2 separate regions of the Homo sapiens genome follow, and region 2 is linked to region 1. The links come from fine-mapping of genetic effects on plasma protein levels. Region 1 holds a variant in brackets. A gene starts in the other region. All regions are shown on their reverse strands.

Region 1 (5,394 bases):
TCATATATTGTATTAGGAACACGCTGTATTCAGAAATAATTGCGCCATTCTTAGTCACTGGGATGACTGTTTCTTCGTACAAAGGAAACCAGTCAAGACCACCTTGGGGTTAGTTGTACTGGTCATCATTAGCCAAGAAATGTTCAGCGCTGGATTTACAGATGCCAATGACATATAGCTTTATTTACTTATTTTATTTTTGAGACAGGATCTCACTCTGTCACACAGGCTGCAGTAGGTGGCGCAATGATGGCTCACTGCAGCCTCAATTACCTGGGCTCAAGTAATGCTCCCACCTCAGCCTCCTGAATACCTCGGACTACAGGTGAACACCACAGTACCAAGCTTATTTTTACATTTTGTTTAGGTCTCACTAGGTTGCCCAAACTGGTCTTGAACTCCCGAAATCAAGTGATCCTCTTGCCTTAGCCTCCCAAGGTGCTGGGATTACAGGCGTGAGCCACCACGCCTGCCAGCTTTATTAACTAACTCTGTTTAATAACTACTGAGCCATTCTATACACCCAACACTGATGAGGCCAAAAGAACCCCAACTACCCCACTGACACATCATGTAACTGCAGTCAATTTGTCTTCTTCTTGGAGTCTGAACTTCCAAATAACCATCAAATCCATCTAAGTCTACAATTCTGGTTCCATTCTTCTAAAATAATTCCTATTTTCAAAAAGTTCCACCATTCTACCCCTCCCCCATGTTCTCATCAGAGATACAGAGACCCTACAATACATCCTCTCGACACTGTCTTCAGTTCTAATGTGTGTTCCCAATCTCGTGGTCACTCTGCAGAGCTAGAACTGAGGAGCAGGATCATCTTAAGTGCTGGGAGATCTTTGGGGAGTATGCAAAATGTAGTCAATAGACCCTATGCCACAGAATCACCCGGGTCTTCATAGAAATCATTGAATAGATTCCTGGGGTTTTTCCCAATATGTATATTAAGAATCTAGTAGAAGGGGGAGCTTAGGATCTATATTTTTAACAAACTTTCCAAGTGATTCTTAAGCATATTAAAGTTTGAGAACTATTAGCCCAAACCCTATGTATATTTGTCTCAAAACCAATGGGGAAACAGAAAGGGTAGGGGGTGAGGGAAGCATAATATTATATTTTAAAATAAAATAAAAATCCGATTTCTTAGCGCCAATCTTCCTCAAGTTAAACTCCTCAATTAGCACAATTGTCCCACCTGTGGAATTTGACTCCGTCAAGTTTAATTCACCCTTCTCCTTCCTTGTAATTTTCTGTTGAGTTTCTCCTGAAAGGTTTTTTTTGTGTTCACTTAGCTTGCCCCTCATATCACTTCTAAACCTATATTATGTTTGAAAAATGCTTCAAAATAACTTATTTCTGAGCCCTTCTCTCACCGTACTTCAATTCCTACTCTCCCTTCTTCTGTGCCTAGATGGAAAATGGAAAGCTCACAAATTATTGCCTTATAAAGAACTAAATTGCTATGCTCAGTCTTAGCTGAGATAAGCTAGGTTCAACCAATCTTAGTAGCCCCGTAACATAGCAATTTTGGAAACAGGTTATCTCTTGTCCCCAAAAGTAGGCTCTTTCTCTGACCTTGAGGTTGTTCTAGATAACACTTCACAATAACGAAGTATCCAAACCTAAAATGTGATTATAACATCATCTGACTCAAGAGACCAGCCTTTGTAACAAGCCTTCAAGTTGTGTTGTATTTTTGTTTTGTTTTCTGTGCAGCCACCAGATAGTGAAATTTGGTCAATATAAGAAAGAACTAAATACTCTGATTTTATTTAACCTTCAAGAGGTCAAGAAACCAACTACATATAAGAGGATTCCTCCCACCGCATTGGAGGTATCACCTTCTCTGATGGCTAACTAAATAGACTGCATATTAATTTACAAGCTAATCCTAGAGATTTTATAATCTTCTGATTATTACAGTCTCTAAATACCCATAACCTGACAAAATAAATCAGTAACATTTAGAATCCCATGTCGCCAAGGGATCTGCCGAGATTTCATCTTAGGCAATCTAAATTGGGAAAGAATGTTCTATGGATCATTTTTCCAGGGATAACTTAAAGGAAAAGACATATTTGGCTAAATGTATTTATCACTACAACTTTATAATGTTAACTAGGAGGCTTTGGGTCAAAGACTACAATGAAAACGATTTTCTGAAAAATGTAGCCCATAGTTAAAAAAATAAAACCTCAGAGAAAGTTAAAAGAATGTCTTCCCATTAAGTAAAAATAGCTGAAGTATCATTCAGGA[C/T]TTTTTAATCACATTTATTCACCATCATGTCCTCAGAATAGTCCTACAGAATAGTTGAAAACACAAAGATGCTGATCAATTGATATTTCTAGTACACGCCAAACAAGAACATGATGATTTTCTTGAATCAGGTTCCAACTAAGAAGACGAGAAAATTTCAACACGAAGGTGAAAATTCCAGGCATCTTACCTTCATAACCTCTGGAGCACAGATTGTCTGTGGTTCCATAGATCTTCCACCTGCTCCATAAACCCGATCCCTTGTAGAGCATAATATTCTTTTCTTGTCTGTTGCCGTAGTTAAAAAATAAATCTTCTCCTTTGATCCCCAAAAGTGTGTCATTTTTGCACTCCCATTTCTGAAATTCACTTTTTGAGTCACAGGCATAGAGAGTGATAGCAACCCAGTCCGTTTTTGATGGCACTCCCAGGCATAATTTAAATGCAACACTCATAATCTGAGATTCGGACACCCATCGGAATTTCTGTGATTCGGCATCCTGGTTGCAAGCTGCGGTTTGGACGGCACTGGGACTCACTGCATCCACGCAGCGCTTGTGATCTTCATTATAGATTAAAAATTGCCTGGTGTCTGTTTAAAAAGAAAGAAGCAGGAAAAGAAGAAGAAAGCAAGCATGGCTAAGTGGATTCATGTAACAAGGACGATCTTTTAGGTCAAAAGTTTCCAACTCTTCCATTTCCCTAAAGACTTAAGATTGCAGGAAAAGAGGTACTGATGACTGTGCCTGGGCCAGCTCTCTTCGAGGATCCCTGAAGCTGGAAGGAGAACCTGGACTGAGGGCCTGCCAAGGTACCAGCCCTCAGCTGGATGTTCTCAAAATGTCCTAGTTCACTGTGAGGAGTCTCATGCAAAGTCCCACCTTACATGCCCAAGGATTGTCCAGGAGTGGAACATACAAGGCAGAAAACAGAAAGGAATAATATCAACTGGGAAAAGAAAATTTGGGTAATACGAATACAATAAACTGTAAAATTAAATGCATGTATGTCCTAGAAAAGGTGTGTGTTTGTTTGTTGTTTTTAAAGGACAAGGTCTCACTCTGTTGCTCAGGCTGGAGTGCAGTGGTGCAATCATGGCTCACTGTAGCTTCCAACTTCTGGGCTCAAGTGATCTTCCTGCCTCAGCCTCCCAAGTAGCTGGGACTACAGGCTTGTACCACCATAACCAACTCATTTTTTATTTTTTGTAGAGATAGAGTCACTGTGTTGCCCAAGCTGGTCTTGAACTCCTGGCTTCAAGCAATCTTCCCACTTCAGCCTCTCAAAGTACTAGGATTACAAGTGGGAGCCACCTCGCCCAGACTAGAATAGGATTTTGTAGTGTGACACATCTCAACACATTTTGGTATTATTTGTTAATAATTTAATAGTGAAGTTTGCAATAAAGGAAAAATCAATGTAAGTTTTATATCATTGGAGAGAATATTTTATGAGAATAACTTTAAAAATAACATTTTTTATATTTGTAATTTGGAACTGGTGATTCAAGTAAATATGTAAGGATGGCTTATACTTAACAGCACATAGCTGCTAGCTGGCAAAACGGAACTTCCTCTTGCAAAAGAGGAAAAAAGGATCTGGTAAGCATTTTTTTTTCCTTTAATTAAATCAAAATTGAGTTCATGTAAAGCTTTCTCTTTTTTCTTTATTGTTAAGGAATAAACAAATGAAAGTAACTGAGTGCTTTGATTTTGTGACATAAACATAAATTAAACACATCTTGTGAAATTTTCCTAAATTCCATGCATTCACCTTGTTCTTTCAAAATGAGCTGGTAGTAGTGCAGATGTTTGAGGTTCTGACTAAATGAGCTCATTATTTTTAATTAAATAATTCCAGCGAAATCAAACAAAGTTAGAATCATACCACTAGTAGCGTCCTTCAGTGTTTCCAAAGCATTTTTGCAAGCTGTATTCTATATCCTGTTCTGAACACCCCAGGGAGGTTAGCACCACTTACACTCTGAGATCAGTTCTAGACCCATAAGCTTAAAGCTTATAATAAATTTTTGCCTCAAAAGATTATTTTCTCCTGACACGCTCCTCTGTATGCTCTTGTCCACACTAGTTCCAGATCTCCTGCCTCTATCCTACCTTGAAATGATCATCTCATCTTTAAAAAAAAACAAACAAAAAACAAAACCTTTATAGCAACATCCAGTCTGGTGCTTGATCAAATATCTGGGTACCAAGACCCAGCCATGTTGACACATAAAATTAACCACTGCAGTATATTTTTGGGTAAAGGTGGTAGATTTCACTATTGCCTTAGAATGCAAAAACAAGCTGAAAATCCAGGAAGATTCCTAGGTTTTTAGCTCATGGATCTTGGGGGATGATGGTGCCAAGAATGAGAAAGAGAAGTTTGGATGTTACGCATTAAATGCTGTCTTACTTAGAGTGAGTAAGACTTACTCTCGCTGCCTCTATGCCACCTGGGTTCCTAGTTCTCTGCAACTTCAAACCTCTGCCTGGGCTCCTCTGCTGGGTTACTCATTCATGCTGCTTTGATTTCTTGGAATTGGAACTCAGTAAAGCCTGGATCCAGACACCTGCCTCTGCTGGCTTCTCTGCACTTGACAACTGTTCACAGAACATGCAATACCTATCCCAATCTCCTCCTGTCTAGCTGAGCTTCCTTCCACACTTGATCTCATTTTGTAACTGCTCGTGCCCTAGTGGGACAAAATGAGTAATTTTCTACCTTGGCAATAAAATGAGAATTTTGATAATATAGGGCTTTGCTCACAATGGAACACAGGAAATAGGAAAATAAAAACGGTTTTTTAAAAAACAGTGACTATGATCATTTACTTTATGCAAAGGTAAATTATCTTCTCTAATCTCAAAATGTAATGAACTCTGAAACTTTTGCCATAGATATATGTAAACTCCACTATACTAGCCTCTAAATTTAATGTAATTTGTTTGTGTTATTCTACCTACTGTTGTTTTTTTTAAAGCTGGACTTATCTTCCACTTTTCAGATAGCTTTGCTTAGTAATACCTCATTGTTAATAATAGTAAATATATCTTCCACCTTATACTTTGGCCATTTTCACTGTATTGTCAAACAACAGTCTTATTAACTGGTCAAATTCAGTCA
Region 2 (5,394 bases), not on the chromosome of region 1:
TGGTACAAAACCTCTCATTACGGTTTTATTGTGAATTGTACTTGTATTTTTCTCTAAAATATTTTAACATGATTATAGCTTTGGTAAATGAATGTTTTCTATTTTATACACATAAGTTTAATTTGTAATCATGATATCACTAAATTTTTATCTTATTTTATCCTTTAAAGCACAAATTTTGGGTAAGTTTTGACAATAGACCATTAGACTGACAATCAAACATGACTATTTTCACATTTTAAAAAATTTTACCTATATATCACCTATTCCAGCAGACTCAGACATTTTCATTAGTTGGATATTAGGCTTATACTGATTTCCACTAGAAATCAGTGATGTAGAATATTTCATCCTAGACAGGCATTTGTGAATGGAATCCTATGCCACAGTGTAGCAGGCTAATCCTCCAAACTACTAAACCAATCTAAGAATAACAAACTCTGAATTCTAGATCTGTGGCCACTACTATTCGCGAGTCTTTTAAAAGAACTAGGGGTAGTAAGTGGAAAATGCTTAAGGATACATATGATGTGTGTTGCCCTGAAAAAGTGAAATTTAATGTGGTCGTGTTTCTAACTATTGAGAAATACCTCTAAGGATTTGTGGTATAAATTGTTTTCATTACTAAAGCATAAAATTAAATGAAAGAATTAGAAAATACCTTCTGGTTATTTTAGCATTAAGTATATGATTAAAGCCTGAGATTACTGATTGGTATAATGAATTGCAGTAGGTATTAATCTCTGGCATGTTTATGGGTTTCAATATTAACCACATCTGGTCTGAGCAAAATGAAAAAGCATCATTTGTCTTGATGTCTCACTTCTCATCGTTCCTTATTCTGGAGATTCTTTGTCATCAGTTGGACCTCCCACCTAACTACCAGAGCTGGCCCCTCAGAGGCCACTGCTTTTGCAGAACCTTGTTTTCGTCCTTCTGTGAAAAGCTGGATATGTCCTAAGGAATCATTATTGACATTGTGGCTCTTAAATCCCTTAAAGTGACCTAAAGGCCATAAGGTACACGGTGAAATAGATTCCTTTTTAAAATAGGAACAGGATTATTTTAGTTCTGTCTCTGTCCCTAAGATTTTAGGTTTGAATGCTTTCTTTCAGGAAAGGTTAATATCTATTTTGCCACTTAAACGAACATACCAGCCCACCAACTGTCCACAGAGATGCACATATGATCTCCAGATTCATAGCCACAGTTTGTCCTTCGGGTTGGATCAGCTAATCTGCCTGGAGGAGAGAGGATGCACAGTCGTATTTATTATACGCATTTTGAAACTGGCTGTAACTATTGCTTAACCACATAGATTTTGTTTGTAGATACAAAAGCATTTATTTCTGAATGATATGTGTTTGTATTCCCATCATTCTTTTTTTATCTTTTATTTTTTAGTTTCTAATTTCTTTCCTTTTCCTTAACAACACAGTTTTCTACTTTTGAGTTATAGGTCCTAAATATTATTTACTTTTGTAAGGATACTCTCTTCTATTTCCTCCTCTACCTTCTAATCGAAACTATGAAGCAATATGCATACAGATGAAAAGAGATGGTCGAGAGTCAAAACAAACCCCTGCTCTACCACTTACTAGCTTGACTTTATCTAAATAACCTCTAATGCCTTAGTTTTCTCATCTATGACATGGGGATAATAATATTAACTACATTATAAGGTTGTGATGTGAGGTGAGAAAAAGCACCAAAGGTGTTTCACCTGTAATATGCATTATGTAAATATTAGAAAATAATCATTGTTTTTCTTCCAAATGAAATTGCTCTTTTCTTAACCTCTCTCTCACACACAATAATTTCTTTATTGGCTGTGTCATCAGCAGGGAGTGGGCAACAGGCACCACTCTTTCTCATGAGCTTCTATCAACCAGAACAAAAGTATCTTTCAATTCATGTATATTTTATCCCAAAATGTAACTTCTGTCTATACACTGTAAGGTACCTTATTTCCAAGAGGAAGCAAACATTTTACAGAGAAAGATCTTCATGAACAATGTGATGCTTCTTTATAACCTCATATCATAATTAGAACTTCAAGAAATTCAAACTAATTGGACATCACTTTGTATATCCCCTTGACTGTTTTGTTCATCTCATTGCTTAGAAAGGAGTGTGGCACTTAGTAGAACTTCAACAAATATTTGTGAAATGCTCAATAGATGAGATGTGATGTCTTTTCACAGTTGATAACTATGTCTTATGCCTCATTGAAGCTTCTAATAATAACACACAACCCACAAAAGAAGGATTTGTGGATAAGGAGAAGGATAGGTAGAAAAACAATGATTATAAGGGAAAAGAGAACAAGATAAAGAATCAATTTTTAAAAACATAGTAGGGTATATACAGAGTCCAATTTCCCAAATACTTCATAGGTCTATCGGTAGATCATTACAATGAAAACAAGAGTCATTCTTACCTGTCCTATATTGCCAGCCATACTGCAGAGGCAACCCCCATAAAATATTCTGTTCATTATCTGGTGCAAATTTTGCAAAATACCTGGCTGTCTGATTCAATATGATTTTATACATCCCCATTCTCTCAAGGTATACCCAGGGATTAATAATGTACATGCTGTTCTCCACCCTGTAGTCACTGAGCTGACCAGGACTCTCCTTCCACAGAGGGGGCTCTGTCTCTGAGAGATTGGAAGTCCCTGCTAAGGAAGCAGAAAAGGAACCAACTAGTACACAAACCCAGGAAGGAAGAAAAGCCATTGTGCCAGAGCTGGGGATTGCGATCGTAGCAGGGCTTTTATTGGAGAATGGAAGAGGAAGTCATGATATTTGCTAACCTCACAGCATATCAACACTTTGCTTTTTTGTTTTCCTGGATAGGGTGAAAATGTAGAAGAAATTGATGTATTAGCTAACATTTAGGACAATTAAATTTCCCAGACTCTTCAGCGTCAGAATACTGTGTCAGAACCTAAATACAAGGTTAGGCTTGTTTATAATGTATTAGATAAAACTATTTATCAACAAAAACCTTCCAGAAGTTTCCCAGGCTGCATTGTGATTACAAAATACATCACAAATGGCTTTAGAATGCTTCCCTCTAATAAAAATACTTTAACATATTTCATGGAAAATATTAAATAGCTGGAGATGGAAATACTAGGATTTATAATAATCTTCAAATGTGTACTAAAAATATGTGTGATCCAGTTGTAATACAATGTTCTGCTTCAAGAAAGAAGCTTAAAGAATATCTAATTAGCTCAATTCAATAATGAAAGTCAGCCTGCTGGAACAAAACCTGCTAGTTAATTCTTAATATCTATTTTTCATTCTTTATTAGTAAAAGAATCGTAGAATTTTAGCTGGGAATATGGTCTCCCAGAATTAAGGCTAAATTTCCAATTTGCTTTACACAAGCAACCATGTGACTAAGTGTGGACCACAGAGACATAAATAGAAATAGTATCCACAATTTCTGGAACATGTCCTAAAATGAAGGGCACATGTCAATTCCTCTTCCCTTCCTCCATGTTGTGGCTTGGATTATTGATGTGATGATTGAAATTCAATTCTGACCCCTAAACGCAAGGCACTATCTTAGGGATGACAGAATGCAAAGCTGGAGGTGGCTTGAGTCCCAGAGGGCTGTGGAGCCATGAGATGTCCTTGAATTCCTATATCTGAGTTTTACCTGAGCAAGAAACACCCCACTCTCTTGTTTCAACCACTGTTATTGAAGTTTTATTCACACATAGTAAAAATTCTTGCCTTATTAATAGGTAATGCATCTGAAAATCTCAATTATTTACACAATTAGATGCATATGCTTCATAGTAGGTCACTGGTACTGCTTGTTCCTGGCATGGTCCACATTAAACATCCTACAGCATGATTCCACTCTTTTTTCCTGTCATATTATTTACCCAATAGCCATTTGATAATTAATAAATTTTCCAGATATATTAATATAAAAGGGAATGGTAGGAATTGCTACTATAGATCAAGAATGCAATCATTCTGGAAATTTTAAAAGTATATTAAATGTTTATAAGAATATATACGTGAATATGTACTGTAAGATGTGTTACTCTAAAACCAAATGCCAGATTGTTCTCAATGGAGAAATCTTAAGAGCACTCCTTTAAGGTCAGAAATAAAATAAAAATGACCACCAGCATTATAATCATTTAACTTTTCTTTGAGGATACCAAACAATAAAGTTAGTAAAGATAAATAAATTAGAGGTATAAAATTGAGAATGAAGATGTGCTAGTACTTTCCCTTATAGATGATATGACAGTGTTCAGAAAACATAAGAGAATAAACTAGAAGGGTAACTACAAAGAAAAAATTTACTAAAGTGGTTAAGAACTAAATTACTATATATAAATCAATAGCTTTTATATATAAAAGCAATTGGGAAATATAATAGGTGAAAATGGAAGAAAAGTCCTCATTTTATTGTCAACAAAAGGGCCAACATATAAATGTATAATTATGGTAGATCTGTTTGGAAAAATCTCTAAGACTACAAAAAAATTGAACAGTTTTAAAGTCATACAATGTTTCTCAATAGACTCAACATTATCAACATGTTAATTTATAAATTTGTACAATAAATGAGAAATATTAACAGGATTTTTAGATGTGCTTTCTGGAAAGATTTTTAGGACTGAGGCTAAAATTTGCCTAAAAAATAAATTATGAAGAAAATACAAAAACTCTAATAATAATGGATAATAATAGTGAAAGGAAACTTTCCATAACAGATATTAGAAGATTATTATAAGCCCTCAAAAATTAAAGTAACACACCACAGTCATTGATGTAATAGTGTGACCAGTTACAGGTTAAATAAAACAGAAATATTGAACTATATTAGAGAAAGATTTTAAATGAAGACCAAAATACAAATGAGAATTTAAAGAGGAGCTATACTGGAACTAGATCTAGACATTGCTTCTATGTCCACTAGTGGAGTAGTTATTGGAATCCCATATACAGTGGGAAAAAAGTAAGAGCACATCTTGATGGAAAGATATTTGTTAAGGATATAAAAGAAATAATGTCAATAGTAGAATCTGGATCTTCTCATGCAAAAATTATTAATAGAAGAGGAAATAAGTTAGACGCTTACAAATAAACCTCAAATGAACATCAAACATATCACGGCATGCACTGATAGTTACATAACGTGATATTCACTCTTCTCTTATTTCTTTGTAAGAACACCCTTAATCCTTAGCACAACAGAGTCTTCCTGGAATAGAGATTATATTATTTAGTCTCACTGCTAGATGTAGCTACTTGATAAAGCTGTGGCCAAATTGTTAAGTTGCAGCTTTCAAGGAATCTCCTTTATACCTTGTCCTTTATTCTTTGTTATTTCTTCCTCTGCTGGCTGGAATGT

Which allele goes with the higher level. Alleles are on the strand shown, and positions count from the first base shown. The strength of an association depends on the size of the effect and on how common the allele is.
As copies of C replace T in region 1, the plasma level of the protein whose gene starts at base 2,753 in region 2 goes down (weak association).

The links. A credible set is the group of variants that fine-mapping cannot tell apart. PIP is the posterior inclusion probability: the model's chance that the variant is causal. Protein levels are from antibody-based Olink assays in UK Biobank. Linkage for the fine-mapping came from a reference panel and not from the study's own genotypes, which makes the PIPs less certain.
Region 2: it holds the start of C6orf58, and the variant in region 1 is the best candidate, but not a certain one, in a credible set for the plasma level of the C6orf58 protein (UK Biobank, PIP 0.84).

What each region holds. Positions count from the first base shown.
Region 1 is chr10:17,820,540-17,825,933 of GRCh38, reverse strand. MRC1 (mannose receptor C-type 1) reads right to left here. Exons shown (of 30, transcript NM_002438.4): 2 at 2,459-2,860. Among named protein-coding and RNA genes, the nearest start is that of MRC1, 14 kb to the right of the region's middle. The variant C/T (reference allele first, on the strand shown) is at 2,269.
Region 2 is chr6:127,574,533-127,579,926 of GRCh38, reverse strand. C6orf58 (chromosome 6 open reading frame 58) reads right to left here and starts at 2,753. Exons shown (of 6, transcript NM_001010905.3): 1 at 2,441-2,753; 2 at 1,155-1,241. The coding sequence starts at 2,741.